2 linked regions of the Homo sapiens genome follow. The protein of the gene in region 1 purifies or fractionates together with the protein of each later gene. This does not show direct contact. Each region holds a gene or a part of one and is shown in the gene's direction. Other genes may lie near its edges. The genes, in order: WDR89 and CA10.

Region 1 (3,829 bases):
GGGGCCAGGAGAAGATTATTCCAAAGTGGAGATCCTTGCCAATCCTGAAGATGACTTGAGTAGAACCAGTAATTGGGTTTGAGCTAAAAGGAACTACTGGGTGGCGTATGTACATGTTTTTTATTCTCTTACTAGCATAAAATATATATAGTAAATTCAGCATTTTTTTTTTCTTTTTTGAGGCAGGATCTCACTTTATTCCCCAGGCTGTATGACAGTGACATGATCATGGATCACTGTAGTCTCAACTTCTGGTCTCAAGCAGTCCTCCTACCTCAGCCTCCTGAGTAGCTAGGACTACAGGCATAGGCCACCATGCCCTGCTAATTTATTTTTTGAAGAGACGGCGGGGGGGTCTCCCCATGTTGCTCAGGCTGGTCTCTAATGCCTGGCCTCAAGCAGTCCTCCTACCTCAGCCTCCCAAAGTGCTGAGATTACAGGTGTGAGCCACCACTCCTGGTAGTGAATTCAGTATTAAAGAGTGATTGAATTAGAAGGCAACTGAGTTTTAGTTACATCATAGGAAGGAAATGATTATAGTATTAGAATACATTTCTGTTGATTGATTGATTCATGCCAGCCCTCAGAGGAAAATGTTCTTGATTTAATTGCAATTTTAGAGAAACTTCAAGTTAAATTTTTTTATGTGTCTCCCTTGTTAAGCATTAATTTTTATTTTTATTATTATTATTTTTTACAGAGTTTTACTACCCTTGGATGCTGCTGTTGACATGGAAAAGATTGAGGAACAATTTGCTAATCTGCACATTGTTAAATGTTCCTTAGGAACCAAAGAGCCCACTTACCTTCTTGGTATAGACACATCAAAGACTGTCCAAGCAGGAAAGGAAAACTTGGTTGCTGTTTTATGTTCTAATGGATCAATCAGAATATATGATAAAGAAAGGTTAAATGTACTACGAGAATTTAGTGGATATCCTGGACTTCTTAATGGAGTCAGATTTGCAAATTCCTGTGACAGTGTATATTCAGCATGTACTGATGGCACTGTGAAATGCTGGGATGCTCGAGTAGCCAGAGAAAAACCTGTTCAGCTCTTCAAGGGTTACCCTTCCAATATTTTTATCAGTTTTGATATTAATTGTAATGATCATATTATTTGTGCTGGTACAGAAAAAGTTGATGATGATGCATTGTTGGTGTTTTGGGATGCAAGGATGAATTCTCAGAATTTATCTACAACTAAAGACTCACTTGGTGCATATTCAGAGACACATAGTGATGATGTCACTCAAGTACGTTTCCATCCCAGCAATCCCAACATGGTAGTCTCAGGTTCATCTGATGGCCTGGTAAATGTATTTGATATTAATATTGATAATGAGGAGGATGCACTGGTTACAACCTGTAACTCAATTTCATCAGTAAGCTGTATTGGTTGGTCTGGGAAAGGTTATAAACAGATTTACTGCATGACACATGATGAAGGATTTTATTGGTGGGATCTTAATCATCTGGACACTGATGAACCAGTTACACGTTTGAACATCCAGGATGTCAGAGAAGTAGTTAACATGAAAGAAGATGCTTTGGACTATTTGATTGGTGGCCTATATCATGAAAAGACAGACACATTGCATGTTATTGGAGGAACAAACAAAGGAAGGATTCATTTGATGAACTGCAGCATGTCAGGACTGACCCATGTGACTAGCCTTCAGGGAGGGCATGCTGCTACAGTCCGTTCTTTCTGTTGGAATGTGCAAGATGATTCTTTGTTGACTGGAGGAGAAGATGCACAGTTGTTACTTTGGAAACCTGGAGCTATAGAGAAGACCTTTACAAAGAAAGAGAGTATGAAAATAGCATCCTCTGTGCACCAACGAGTACGAGTTCATAGTAATGATTCTTATAAAAGAAGGAAAAAGCAGTGATAATGCATTTGGCACTTTGTTTGGTAGGTTTTATAGTTTCAAATAGTCCTTCTTGTTTACTACCCATGGTAGACATGTTTAAAGCTTTATGTAAAAACAAGCCAGTTAGCAAACAGTCCTGGAAAAATATGGTGAGAATGGTTTAATTCCGGTCTTCACATATTCTAAAAAATTTTAAAGCCTCTAAGTATAAAATCAGTGAGTTGAAAGTAAAATTTCTTATTTAAAGAACCCATCTGTTAATGTAGTAAATGTTGGCTTTAAAGAAATAGCTCCGATAAGGACTTTTTAGAAGGAAATACTTGGTAAAACTTAATAAAACAGGTGGTTGGCTGCATTTTTTAAGCCCAGTTTTTTACATTTTAAATTGTCTTTATTGTGTATAAAACCAGATTAGACTATATTCTTCATCTGAGGAGCATCTATATGTTTAATACACCTAATGTATTATGCTGGAGTATTTAAATGTAAGTATTTTAATGAGTAAATAGAATTAACCTTTTTTACAAATGAAATGATAGGCATCTATGTAAAGTGAGAAAAATATGTTTCGTAAATATTTGCATCTTTAATATTGTTAGTAAGTAGTAAACAGGTGTTTTGCTGATTGAAAGGAAGTTATCTTGGTAAATTGAGACTCAAAGTGAAATACAAAAATGAAAATATTTATAATAGGACTCGACTTGGAGAAATTGCTATTCTTCCTGTTGTCCAAACCATAAATCTGAGGATAACCTGGGCTTTTCTCTTTCCTCTTCTCCTAACCAGTTTTTCACCAAGTCCTGTGCCATTTCACCTCCTAACGTCTGTCAGCTATCCTTTTGCCTTTACCTCACCACTATTACCCTAGAGAAGACTTTCATTATTTCTCATCTGGATTACCAGCTCGATCTCTAATCTGCTTCAGTTCATCCTTCTTGCTACTTCTAGGCTAAACATCAAAAACAGATCTGGTAGGGGCGGGGAAATGAGGGGGAAGAAACAAAAACGTGATGGTGCCTCATGCTGCTTAAAATCTTCAGTACATTGATGTTTTGATGGCGGACTACATAAGCGTTAAAAATTGTGTTTTTCAGAATCTTTAAAATATAAGACAGTGCTATCTAGTGAATAAAAAAATTAGTTTGAAAGATATCTGGAGAAATCGCATTCATAAAACAATTGGAAGTGAAACTATTAAAACAATAGGGCTTTTTAAAATTAAAAATATTTAAAATTCAAAAGTAATTAATAGTGTTGGAAGATGTAGGTGAGAAAATATTCCTGAAAGTAGAACTGAAAGAGACAAAGAGAAAAGATGAAAGCCACAGAAGATAAATACAGGGGTCAAAACCAGACTAACAGTTTTAGAAAGTGAAAAAAGTTAAAAAAGAAATGGGGGCAGTGGGTTATTAGAAATAACATAAATGGCTGGTATGGTTTGTCTGTGTCCTCACCCAAATTTCATCTCGAATTGTAATCCCCATAATCCCCATGTGTCTAGGGAGAGACCTGGTGGGAGGTGATTGGATCATGGGGGTGGTTTCCCCTACGATGTTCTCCTGATAGTGGGTGAGTTCTCACAAGATCTGATGGTTTTATAAAGGGCTCTGCCCCTTTAACTCCTCACTCTTTCTCCTGAAGCCTTGTGAAGAAGGTGCTTTGCTTCCCCTTTGCGTTCCCCCATGATTGTAAGTTTCTTGAGGCCTCCCTGGCCATGCTGAACTCTTCAGTCAATTAAACACTTTCCTTTATAAATTACCCAGTCTTGGGCAGTTATTTATAGAGTGTGAAAATGGACTAATATAGTGGCTATTCCAGAACTTCAATCTTTAGATTGAAAGGCACAGCAGAGTGTCAAGTGTAATGAATGAAAAAGATCCACATCAAGGCATAGCACTGTGAAGTTTCAGAGTAAATAGAAAATCCTGCAAGTGTCCGGAAAAAAAAAATCA
Region 2 (3,829 bases), on another chromosome or scaffold:
TTATAGCCTACTTATTTTTATTTTGCCATTTGTTATCTATCTCTCCAACTAGAATAAGGTCAAGGACTGCATCTATCTTGTTAATTGCTCTGTCCCCAGAGCTTAACACTGTGCCTAGCACAAAGAGGTTCTAGTGAATAATCGTTGAATGAAAAAATGACCTTGGTCTGGAGGTCGGAAGAGCTGAGTTCTAATTTCCACTTTGCAGTCACCAGCTAGCCCTGTGACCTTGGGCAGCCCACTTTGCCTCCCTGATCTTTAGTTTCTTGTCAGTGGAGGATGTTACTATCTGCCTGACTCATTTTATTGAGTCAATGTGAGGTTCCAGCCATATGTGAAAGTCTTCCTTTACCATATATGTGCACAATACTAAACTGAAGAGGTTCCCTCAACCCCTGAAGAATGAGTACTTTCCCACTGGGAGTTAGACACATGGACGAGAGAACATGTGTGCATCCATGGGGCTGGAGAGTCAGTCTCATCCCTCGGCCAGCCAGGCTTTGGGACCCTGCCATGTGTTCTCCAGGTCTCCTGGACTGGCCACAGTGATGGGTGCTCATGGTATGCCTGGGGATGTGATACCTCTAGAGATATAGATCTGGAATCACTGGGATGCAGAAGGCAAGTGAAGCCATGGATGTAGATGAGCTACTCTCAGATGAGAGGATAGAGTAAGAAAAGAAGGGAGCCTTGGACTGATCTTTGGGGAATTGCATCATTGAGAGAAGCAGGTAGAAGATCAGGAGACAGCAACAAAACCTGAGAGAGAATGGCCAGAAAAATGGGAATACTAAGTATGGTATTTTTGAAGCCAGCAGAAGAGAACAATCACGTGCTAAAAGAAAGGAAGAAGGATCATGAAGAGGGGAGAAGAGGAGAGATACATTGCAATTAACTGATATTTTAAAACTCCAATACACACAATTTTATCAAAAATACAACCAATACATTGACTAAAAAAATTAACAGGAAACACACCAAAATGCTAATAGTAACAGTTTTAGATGACTGAAATTGTTTTTTCTTTTTTCCATATAGTCTGTGATGTACTTATGTCATTTTTACCATTGAATTACTGTATTTAGTAATAGAAGATATATGGGTATGAATACCTCAAATTGGTGTAAGAGAAAAGGCTATCTGCATAGACCTGAGAGAGAGAAAAATACACACACACACACACACACACACACACACACACACAAAATAATCAGTTGTTGAGCTTAACCATAGAATCTCATGGTAGGATTTGGCCTGATTTACTTTTCTATCCAAAAATATTTTCTTATTGTTGTTTTAAGTGAGAATGGTCACCAGGTGAATTTCAACAGGTCTAGAAGCTTTAATTGTCCATCTCATGATACCTGTAATGCCTAGGAGTCCAGATCTCAGGGACTAGAATCAAGGACTCCTCAAACAATCCCTGTGGTAGAACGCATTGCTTACAGCTCACCAATGCTCAGGGCCCCATCCTGTGGAAGGAATGTGCTTCCTCGCATCCCCAACATCAGCCTTAACCATGTGACTTCTTTGGCTACCAAAACATGAGCACAAGTGATGTGTGCCACTTCTGGGATGGAAGTTTTAAGAACCAACACACATTCGCCATGCTTTCGCTTCTGTCACTGTGATCCGCACAGGTCCAGGTGTTTACTGCTCTAAGAGTCTAGGTCCCAAAGCATGGACAATGACATGGAGGGAAGCCTCAGCCAACCTGGAATGATCATGTGTGTGAGCAAGAAATACATTCTTATTGCTTAAAACAACCGAGATCTGGGGGACAACTGCTTGTTACTGCAGCCTGTTCTGACAGATAGAGTCTTCTGGAATTCCAAAAGAAATACATATATATCTGTGTGTGTATATATGTATGTATATGTATATGTATATGTATGTATGTATGTATGTATGTCAGCAATACCATCCCTTTCTCAAGAAACCTAATTTTTAAGTCTTCTTTCCTTCTCTAGATGATGCATATTTACTACAGGGGCTTAATATAGAGGAACTATATCCAGAGACCTCTAGTTTCATCACTTACGATGGGTCGATGACTATCCCACCCTGCTATGAGACAGCAAGTTGGATCATAATGAACAAACCTGTCTATATAACCAGGATGCAGGTGAGTTTCTCTCTGGTCATTTAGCTAATGGAGAAGAATGATGTTAAAAAAAAATCACTGAAATGTGGAGTGCCTATTATAATAGTTTACTAGGACCACTATAACAAAGTCCCACAAACTGGGTAGTTTAAACTAACACAAACTTATCGCCTCACAGTTCTGGAGACTAGAAGTCCAAGATCAAGGTGTCAGCAGCGTTGCTTCCTTCAGCGGAATGTGAGGAAGAATCTGTTCCATGCCTCTCCCCTAGCTTCTAGTGGTTTGCTGACAATCTTTGACGTGCTTTGGCATTTAAAAGCACCACCCCAAGCTCTACCTCCATCTTTTTTTTTTTCTTTTTTGAGATGGAGTCTCGCTCTTGTCACCCAGGCTGGAGTGCAGTGGCGTGATCTTGGCTCACTGCAACTTCCACCTCCTGGGTTCAAGCGATTCTTGTGCCTCAGCCTCCTGAGTAGCTGGGATTACAGACACGTGCCACCACGCCCGGCTAATTTTTATACTTTTAGTAGAGATGGGGTTTCATCATGTTGGCCAGGCTGGTCTTGAACTCCTGACCTCAGGTAATCCATTTGCCTCGACCTCCCAAAGTGCTGGGATTACAGGCGTGAGCCACCACACCCAGCCTCTACCTCCATCTTTATAAGGTGTTCTCCCTGTGTCTGAGGCTCTGTGTCCAAATTTCCCCTTTTTATAAAGGCACCTTCTGTATTCCATTAAAGCCTAACCCCAATAAGCTTGTCTTAGCTCATTCCATCTGCAATGACTATTTCCAAATAAGGTCACATTCTGAGCAACTAGGGGTTACCAGTACCTTCAGCTTATGAATTTCAGGGGTACACGATTCAACCCATATGCCTGGGTTTAAAGAGCCAGCATCCAAAAGGCTTAGCCTGAGCTAATTATAGAAGCATCTCAACTGTCTCAGTGGGAAAAGATAGCCATTAATTCCCAGAGTGTATTCTACAACTACAGTGTTCAGAAAGCAAGCAAGCAAAATGGAAGATGTCATTATGCATTTGAAAAAGTTGGGTTTTAAAAAGTTAAATAGATTCCATTGTTGAAGGATTTCTGGGGTCCTTCTTAAATGCTAATATATGTGTCAGTCTTCAAGAGGAAGTGGTATGATATGTAGTATTTTGCACACATATTTGAATGTGCAGTGTTTTTTTTGGATCATCTCACAGAGTTAGTACTCATCAGAACTGGATGGGAGGCAGATGGGTCCTCCTGTGTGAGCTTGGCTACACGGCTTATTGTGCTCTTCAGGCCTGTCACCCACCTCTATGAAATGAACACTCCTCTTCTTTATTGAGAGGGGGATAAATTACATGAGTTTGCTCCAGCTCTGACATTCTACGACTGTGGGAGTCTATAACAAATTAAAGGAGAGATGAGCAAAGGAAGCAGAAGCCAATATCCTTGACGGGATATGTGTTCCCACCTGACCACCATTTGAACAATTTGAAGTTCCTTAACCTATCTGTATTGAATGGGACCCACTGGGTGACAGGCAACAGTAACTCCCCACTTAAGCTTAGAAAAAGCATTTATTTGAGAGCTACGAGGGCATCTTAGAGAATTTAAAATCAGAAATTGACATCAGAAATTCACTGAAATGGGAACCCCAGAAGTGCTTTCTCTCTGTTGTCCTCTTCTCACCACACATTCACTTCATTCTTCTCTCCTGCTAGAGACCGTCTTCTT

Evidence for each region.
Region 2: the proteins of WDR89 (region 1) and CA10 purify together in Homo sapiens (co-immunoprecipitation; one large-scale study listed by IntAct). This does not show direct contact.

What each region holds. Positions count from the first base shown.
Region 1 is NC_000014.9:63,596,845-63,600,673, reverse strand, and holds the end of WDR89 (WD repeat-containing protein 89), read left to right. Parts: intron 1-700; coding exon of another isoform or gene 701-731; coding exon 732-1,895; 3' UTR 1,896-3,635; downstream 3,636-3,829.
Region 2 is NC_000017.11:51,634,151-51,637,979, reverse strand, and holds part of CA10 (carbonic anhydrase-related protein 10 precursor), read left to right. Parts: intron 1-1,970; coding exon 1,971-2,125; intron 2,126-3,829. UniProt on the Homo sapiens protein: Does not have a catalytic activity.